2 linked regions of the Homo sapiens genome follow. The protein of the gene in region 2 interacts with the protein of the main gene of each other region in a pairwise test. Each region holds a gene or a part of one and is shown on either strand. Other genes may lie near its edges. The genes, in order: TMEM132D and VPS13C.

What was found.
Region 1: the proteins of VPS13C (region 2) and TMEM132D interact in a two-hybrid assay, tested with the Homo sapiens proteins (one large-scale study listed by BioGRID).

Annotation. Positions count from the first base shown.
Region 1 is NC_000012.12:129,074,907-129,078,728, forward strand, and holds part of TMEM132D (transmembrane protein 132D precursor), read right to left. Parts: intron 3,820-3,822; coding exon 3,628-3,819; intron 170-3,627; exon of another isoform or gene 154-169; coding exon 1-153. UniProt on the Homo sapiens protein: Regulate neuronals morphology via inhibition of the WAVE regulatory complex (WCR), a complex that controls F-actin cytoskeletal dynamics.
Region 2 is NC_000015.10:61,920,860-61,924,681, forward strand, and holds part of VPS13C (intermembrane lipid transfer protein VPS13C), read right to left. Parts: intron 1,904-3,822; coding exon 1,538-1,903; intron 1,175-1,537; coding exon 1,088-1,174; intron 1-1,087. UniProt on the Homo sapiens protein: Mediates the transfer of lipids between membranes at organelle contact sites. Necessary for proper mitochondrial function and maintenance of mitochondrial transmembrane potential.

The sequences.
Region 1 (3,822 bases), on a different chromosome or scaffold from region 2:
AATGATAGGCCACTTGAATTTGGGGTCTTGGTGGATGGAGACTACCTTCTCATCCAAAGATGTGGCCATCAAGGAGAAGTCTTTCCCATCGTAAATATCCAAGGGCGTGACTGAGCCATCACTGAACTGGACCCAGCAACTGATGGCTGCTTCCTATGGAGAAAAATATGTAAGTTAATCAAATGGGCCAAAAAGCTCATTGAGCCCCAAGTCTTAGTACAGTAGACACACAACGGCAAAACTATTGCTACAAGAACAAAGACAAACCTTTCAAACAGTGTAGAAATAAGCGATAAGAAGTACCAAGAGTATAAAAGAAAATGAATTCTCACAAAGATGCAAAAAAGCAAAATAAAACAACAACAAAATGACAAAACAGGGCCAGTATTAAACAATCCGTAAGAAGATTTGCTTTTTTTTTTTTTCTCCTGTAGGTGTTGTTATAAAAGGAAGATGGGCCCTTGGGCTGTTCAGAATCAACTTCTGAACAATAATAAATTGCACGACAAAGGAAATTACTGGTTAGTGGAATCATTTACAAGTGTTACACATTCAAATGAAAAATATTTATTACATTATTTTTAAGTTGTAATACTGAGTCTCCACTGATTACTGGCAATACAGATAAAAGCCTCTGATCTAGATGAGGTCCCACTGCAGGGCTGCAGGCTGTGGTTTTGCCAGCCCTGCCTTTTCTGGGTCTGCAGGAGTGGATCTGTCCTGGCCTCAGGCCATAGTCTTGGCTTGGAGGGAGGAGTTAAGCCTGACAGCAGGAGAGGGAGAAGCATCTTGATTGGAGAGTCTTCATCTCTTCCTCCACCCAACCCAACTGGAGGAAACTGGAAGACCAAAAAGCAGCCAGAGCTTGTTTTCACTTTGTTGATTTAGACCAACTTTCTTTGCAAATAGTTTGACCAGGCAGATCATTGGAGATAACCTCCAATTTCATGCCAGCCTTTAATTTTAGTGAAGATGACATTATGCTTGACAGCAGTGGCAGATCCATTGCTTCCTCCCTCCCTCCCTCCCTCTCAGAGAACCTGCTCCGCCCCAAGCCCGAGATGATGAACAGCACTAGGTGGCCCATGACCCTGCCCGCTGGGCCACAGCAACAGCTGATTGAAATGAGACAGCTGCTGCCATTAGAGCCATCAATCTCAGCAATGCTGAGCCAGCCAGCATTACTCTCTCTCTCTCGAACTTGAAACCAGAAAGACAAGACTGACAAAGTTATGCTTGGGAAGATGTGTAGTGGGGGCACATATAAAATTGGGGAATGAAGCCCTCTGATGGACTATGTATAAGCAAATGTTTGGGCATGGCATTTATCCATAGGAAGACAATAATGAATTAGACCAAAATAAAAACACAGGTGAGAGAGAGAGTGGGCATGAAAGTGCTGACCTTCCCTTTCCTCCAAGGTCTTGCAGCTGGGTTCTGTGAGATCCCTATAATCCTCATAACACATCCTTTGTTATTTAAGCTTTTGCTTGAGTGGATTTTTTTTTCTCTTATGACCTACTGGCCCCTGACCATGACAGAAGTAATTTTACACAGTTGTTGTTTAGTCTTTGGAAGTAAGAAGAAAGTCTCCTCAAATGTGGCTGGTGGCCTCTGCTCTTTCCTTCAGCTCAGCCAAGAAATACTTATTCTGTTAGACACTGGCTTGGACTACCTGCTAAGCGGATAACCTTGCCAAGGCACAGTGCAAAAGCTACTGGACATGACACTGACTTACCAGGTTCTCTCAATCGGCCATGAAATCTGAGCAGAGCATTCAAACGCACAACGGAGTTCTTGAAACTACCACTGTCAGAGCCAAGTTGCAGGCAGGGAGTAAGAGCCCTGCAAACCAACCATGGAGCAAATCTCAGGGTAGCGTGTTTAGCTCTGCATGTCAGGAACGGATTAGCCTTCTGGCCTTCTTCTAGCTGCATCTTATCCCTTCCTTAACGCCTAGCTGGTGGTCCGCTGATGTTATCACCCACAAAGACAGAGAAAAGCCTCAGGTTATTTCTTCATTGCTATCTGTAACTTGCCTCTCGGCTGGCATCCTTCCTTGAGAAAAGGAGGTTTGCTTTGGCCAAGAATTCGATTCTGTTATTGGGATCAACCACTTTCAAGTGTTTTCTAACCCAAAACTCTGCAAACAAAGACTGTAGTATAAGGACTAGGAGATTAGCTCATGCCTGAGAGGGGAGCATTATGTGACAGGTGCAGGCTGGGAAAATGGGAAGGCTCTTTGTGCCCCTTAGCAAGTCCAGTGTGGCACTCCTGCCTCCTCTGAACATGGCCACAGCCGCAGCTGGTGCATGAAGGCAGGGAAGGCCTGGTACCTCACCCTGCCGAGGAAGAGTGCGCAGAAAAGGCTCCTGATCCAGAAGGGAAGCAGTCAGAACAATGTCCCATATGGGCCGGAGGGATTCCAGCTGCCCCACATGAGGATGATCCCTTTTCATGGGGCAAAAGAACTAATGACCTGCAACCACCATGTTTTGTTATTAAGCAAGCTTCACCCAAATTCCTATGTTCTAAGAAATAATGTTTATCCACCTCTAATGAGGGAGAACTTACTACATTCAAAGGTCCCCTATAACAGTCCCCTTTGTAAGCCATTGTATCCACATACAAACACATGCATCACACACATACACACAACACACATACACATATACATGCACACAGGCACCTATACAACACAAGCATACACACAACAGAAAATACACAAGACACACATGCATACGGACACACATAAAGCAAAAACATATATGACACAGACCCACAACACACACACATATGCACACATACAAACAACAAATAGACACATGCAATGCATACATACAACACACGATACATTCACAACACACATATATACATGCATACAGGTGCCTATACAACACAAGCACACATGCAACACACAACACAAAACAAGCAACACAAAATACTGACACAAGACACACACATGCATACACAGACACACAAAAACAACATATATGTACACAACACATAGACACACAACACACATATACATATGCACACAACACACAAAACACACTCTATTAGCTCACACTGGTTCCAAATAAAGTAAAAGAAAATTGTGACTGACATCTCCATGAATTCTCTGTTTCTGCCTTGAGCTGAACAATGAATGGTCTGGAAGCGATCTCCCGCCACAGGCTCCCCACTCAGCAGGTCTGTCACCCTCCGCTCCAGCAGGACCTTGGCATCAGGCTGTGCACCTGCTCTGAGCCTGCACGTGCCCTCATGCCCTCATGGAAGCAGGAAGCGTGTGGAGAGCACAGGTGACCACCTGCATGCACTTGCACTATGGTGGATGAGGGGTGGGCCTTTCCTCCAGGGCTCCTGCCCCTTAATGGCTTCTCATTTTTCACATGTTGCAATCCTTATGTATATATGTATTTATTTTTTTCATCTCTGCATGGGGGAGCTGGGAAACATGAGGCAGAGGAGTCACCTGCTTCAGAAGAGCCCTTTGCAGATGGAGAAACAAACGCCCGATATATGATCCCACTCTATTGTGCGACCCGCCTGGCGTGGTGCCTGCCTGGTGTGTGATCCACTTGGTGAGGGACCCTGCTGAAGTGTGTCTCAAGCCCTCCTCCATACCTGTTTTGGCCTCTGCAGAAGTTCCTGAGCCACTGCAGTGGCAAAGATGGCCCTGTTGCTTCCTGGGCTGAGCTGCAAGGAGAGTGACAGCCCTGTCACCAGCTGCACCCCGAGGTCTGTGATGGTCACCTTCTCGTCCAGCACAGTGATGGTCTTTTCAGCGAGGATGGTGTCTGACAGAGGAGACAGGATCTG
Region 2 (3,822 bases):
TACGCCATGAAATTACTCAAAGCCAGCTACAATATTTGTCTCTTATGCATTCCTCAGAGCATAGCTATTTATTCAGTGTCACCCAACTGGTGATTATGTGTTGACGAGCAATCTAAGAGGACCCTGAAGTCTAAACTGATCCCTATTAGAGGTGCCACCTGGAAATGTTTCTCTCCTTCTATTTTTTAAACCAATAACACCTTCAAATAAGTAATATTAATATAATAAACACTTAACTAGCCATCAGATTCCATCAGCTTCTGTTCTAGTAGTATTTCAAAAGCCTTGTAAAACATTCTTTGTTAGCCTCCCTATGCCAGAGAAAGGCAGGTCAGAAAAATATTACTTCTTTATTGAGAGGAAATTGGAACACAGGTTAAGTGACTCATCTTTAACAAAAGAATATGTGGAGTCAGTTTCAGTGCCTGACTCCTTAGTAAGGCTGCCCCAAAGAAGTATGCTACGACAATTTCTTAACAATATATGACTCAAGTTCCTTTTAATCAAGAAAAATGTGCTTCAGTATCTAGGTTTCTGAGGTGTTCTCAAAAAACAACATAAAAAGATAACACACAAGAGTTCATTAACAATTCTCAAATATTCTGGTCTCACCCTTAAAAATCACTGAGTATACTAAAGAGCTTCATTTATGTTTTATCTACCAATATGTACTCTATTAACAATTAAAACTGAAAAAAAATTAAAAATTCATTTAAAAATAAAAATTACATGCTAATATAAATAACATTTTTAATCAAAAATAACTATTTTAAAAATACAGTGAGAAGAGGAACATACACATATATCTCTTTACTGCCTGCCTTAAGGGAAGACAGATAAATTCTCGTTTCTGTTCTGCATTCAATCTGTTGCAGTATCACCTTCATTAGTCTCTGGAAAACTCCACTATACACTCGTGAGAGAATGAGAATGAAAATGACATATGAAAAGAGTTCTGACCTCATGGACAGAGCCCTTAAAAGGGCTTCAAGGATCCTAGACCACATCTTAAGAATCACTGAAATAAAAACTATGAATGAATATGCATAGTATCATTCTATCCAAAGATATTTTAAGATTTCCTTACATCAAGCCTTAAATTCCATTGTCTCTTCCCCTCCACTCTCTCAATCAGTGGCTCCCAGACAGCATGGATCTCATTGTAATAGTGCACCTGGAAAGATACACACAAAATTATAAGACAGTCCTTTGGCTTTAATTACATATTTCTGTAACCAATAGGGAAATTATTAAGTAATCAATGTTATATATCATTAGCCATTTTCAAAACCCATCTAACAATATATAGAGTGTATTTTCCTTTACTCTCTTACTCTATTGTCATAAATTATTTAGCAAATCAATCTTTAAAAAATAATTATCAAAAAACAATACATCGACAAATTAAATGTCAGAACACACTATCTATTCACATATGTACTCATAGTGGCCATGCACAAACAAGAAAAGTGTATATCTTAATTCCAAAATCGCACTTTCAAGAAGTCTCTGAAGGTATTAAGTGATGTGGCCATACCTGTAGTGTCACGTCAGCAACAGCAGCCATTAGAGAAGTCCAATTTTTAATATTTCCTGAAAACTTAGACTCTGCCAATAATAAAGGTACAGTTCGATGTCCAAGGCCACATTCTAAGGTAACTTGAATGGATTCTACAACAACACCACAATTTTCCTCTATCAGTGAATGTTCAATGCCTTTGAAGCTTTCCGTTATTTCTGTTGCCGTGTCAACACCAAGAAACCAAGTGTTATAATCATTAATCGATTTGATACCCCAAAGATTTTCCATTTCCTTAGACGTATCTTTGGATCCATCTTCTTTTGTTTTTGGAGACAATGCAGCCATGATTGTCAACACAGTATTAAGAATTATGGGTGAAATCTTTAAAAAAGAAAGCAGAAAAATATTTATAATAAATTCTTTCCCAGATGAGAATATATACATACATGATTTTAAGTGACATACATTAATTATAAGTGACATTTTTAAATTAAATTTTAATTTTAAATTAAAGTAACTAATTTAAATTTTGAATAAATTCGTAACCAAGAAAAACAAGAGAGAACACAAAATTATGTGTCAAGCCAAGTAATCATGCAACACTGACTTCTACTCAGGTTATCTGGAATTAAATAACTAATGTTATATGTCAGTAGTCAAAATCTAAAGTTAAGCTGATCAATTCAGAGCAAAACAGTGTTATGTGAATAGACAAGTATAGCAATGTAAACAAATTCTTCATTTTAAAAACAGCTACATTAACTAAGCCAAAGTGTGTGATCCTTGTCAAGATACACATAAATATCGGTATGCAACAAGATCTTCTGAAAAAAAAAAAAAGGAAGAAAAAGATATACATTTGCCTTATTAAAGCTGGAAGACTCAAAATCACAGCTCTCCTTTGACTTACCCCAAGATCTATAAATCCTACCTCTTATTATCTTTGGACAGTGCCTTTCTTTGCTCACTTCCCTCACTTCCTATTACTGTGCCTTAGTTCTACACTGATGACATCTTCTACGGCCAACGCCCTCTCAGCCTACACTCCACACTGCCACCAGCATAATTTTTCTACAAACCAAATCTGAGTATGACATTCTTATGTTTAAAATCTTCATCAACTTCCCATAATTTTTTTATCCCACAAGATAAAATTGAAACTCTCTTTAACTTAATGTGCAGAGCTCTTTGTGGCCTAGTGCCTATTCAACCAGCTAGCCAGGATTCTCCCAAAGTTTGAGAAATACTAGGTTAAATAAGTTAACTGTATTCCTTTATTGTTCACTTCTCACAATCCTTACTTAAAATGTAAAGGGATATAATTATATCATCAAAAGCAGGATCTAGTATGTATTGTTTTCCTAACTTACTTGTCAACTTTTTTTCCGTGTCTTATTAATGTCACTTATAATTAATGCTTCCAGTCTTACAACGCCACCACACCATTCTCTCCAGCCATATGTGACCACCCCTCTAAATCTTTTTTTTTTTTTTTTTTTTTTGAGACGGAGTCTCGCTCTGTCGCCCAGGCTGGAGTGCAGTGGCGGGATCTCGGCTCACTGCAAGCTCCGCCTCCCGGGTTCACGCCATTCTCCTGCCTCAGCCTCCCAAGTAGCTGGGACTACAGGCGCCCGCCACTACGCCCGGCTAATTTTTTGTATTTTTTAGTAGAGACGGGGTTTCACCGTTTTAGCCGGGATGGTCTCGATCTCCTGACCTCGTGATCCGCCCGCCTCGGCCTCCCAAAGTGCTGGGATTACAGGCGTGAGGCCACCGCGCCCGGCCACCCCTCTAAATCTTAAAGGATTTTTTCACACCTCTGCCTTTGTGCATATTATCAGTTCTGTCTGGATAAACCTTTCCATGCTCCCCATCTATTTAATCTCCCTTCAAAACTCAAATCAAATAGTCCTGCTTCTACACAGCTTTCCCTGATGTCCTGGTCTGAATTAAAGGCCCCATGCCTGTGCTCCCAACTGCATCTTGGCCATGCCTCTAGCACTGAAAGCTGTAATCACTGATTTCTTTCTTTCTCCCGCATATGTCATTAAGTTTTTTGACAGCAGGGGCTACATATCCCCAATGCCTTGTAAAGGACATTTTTTTAATACACAGTAAAAGCTCAAAAACGTTTTTTGAATCAATCATAAATTTATACACAAAGAATGTAAAGTCTCACCAGCACCTAACCTAGTGCTTTAAAATATGCAAATTCGAGGAGTTTTTCCCTCATTTACTACTTTATATATTTTTAAAAGTAAATCCATTAACAATATACATTCTAAGACTATCCAGTATTT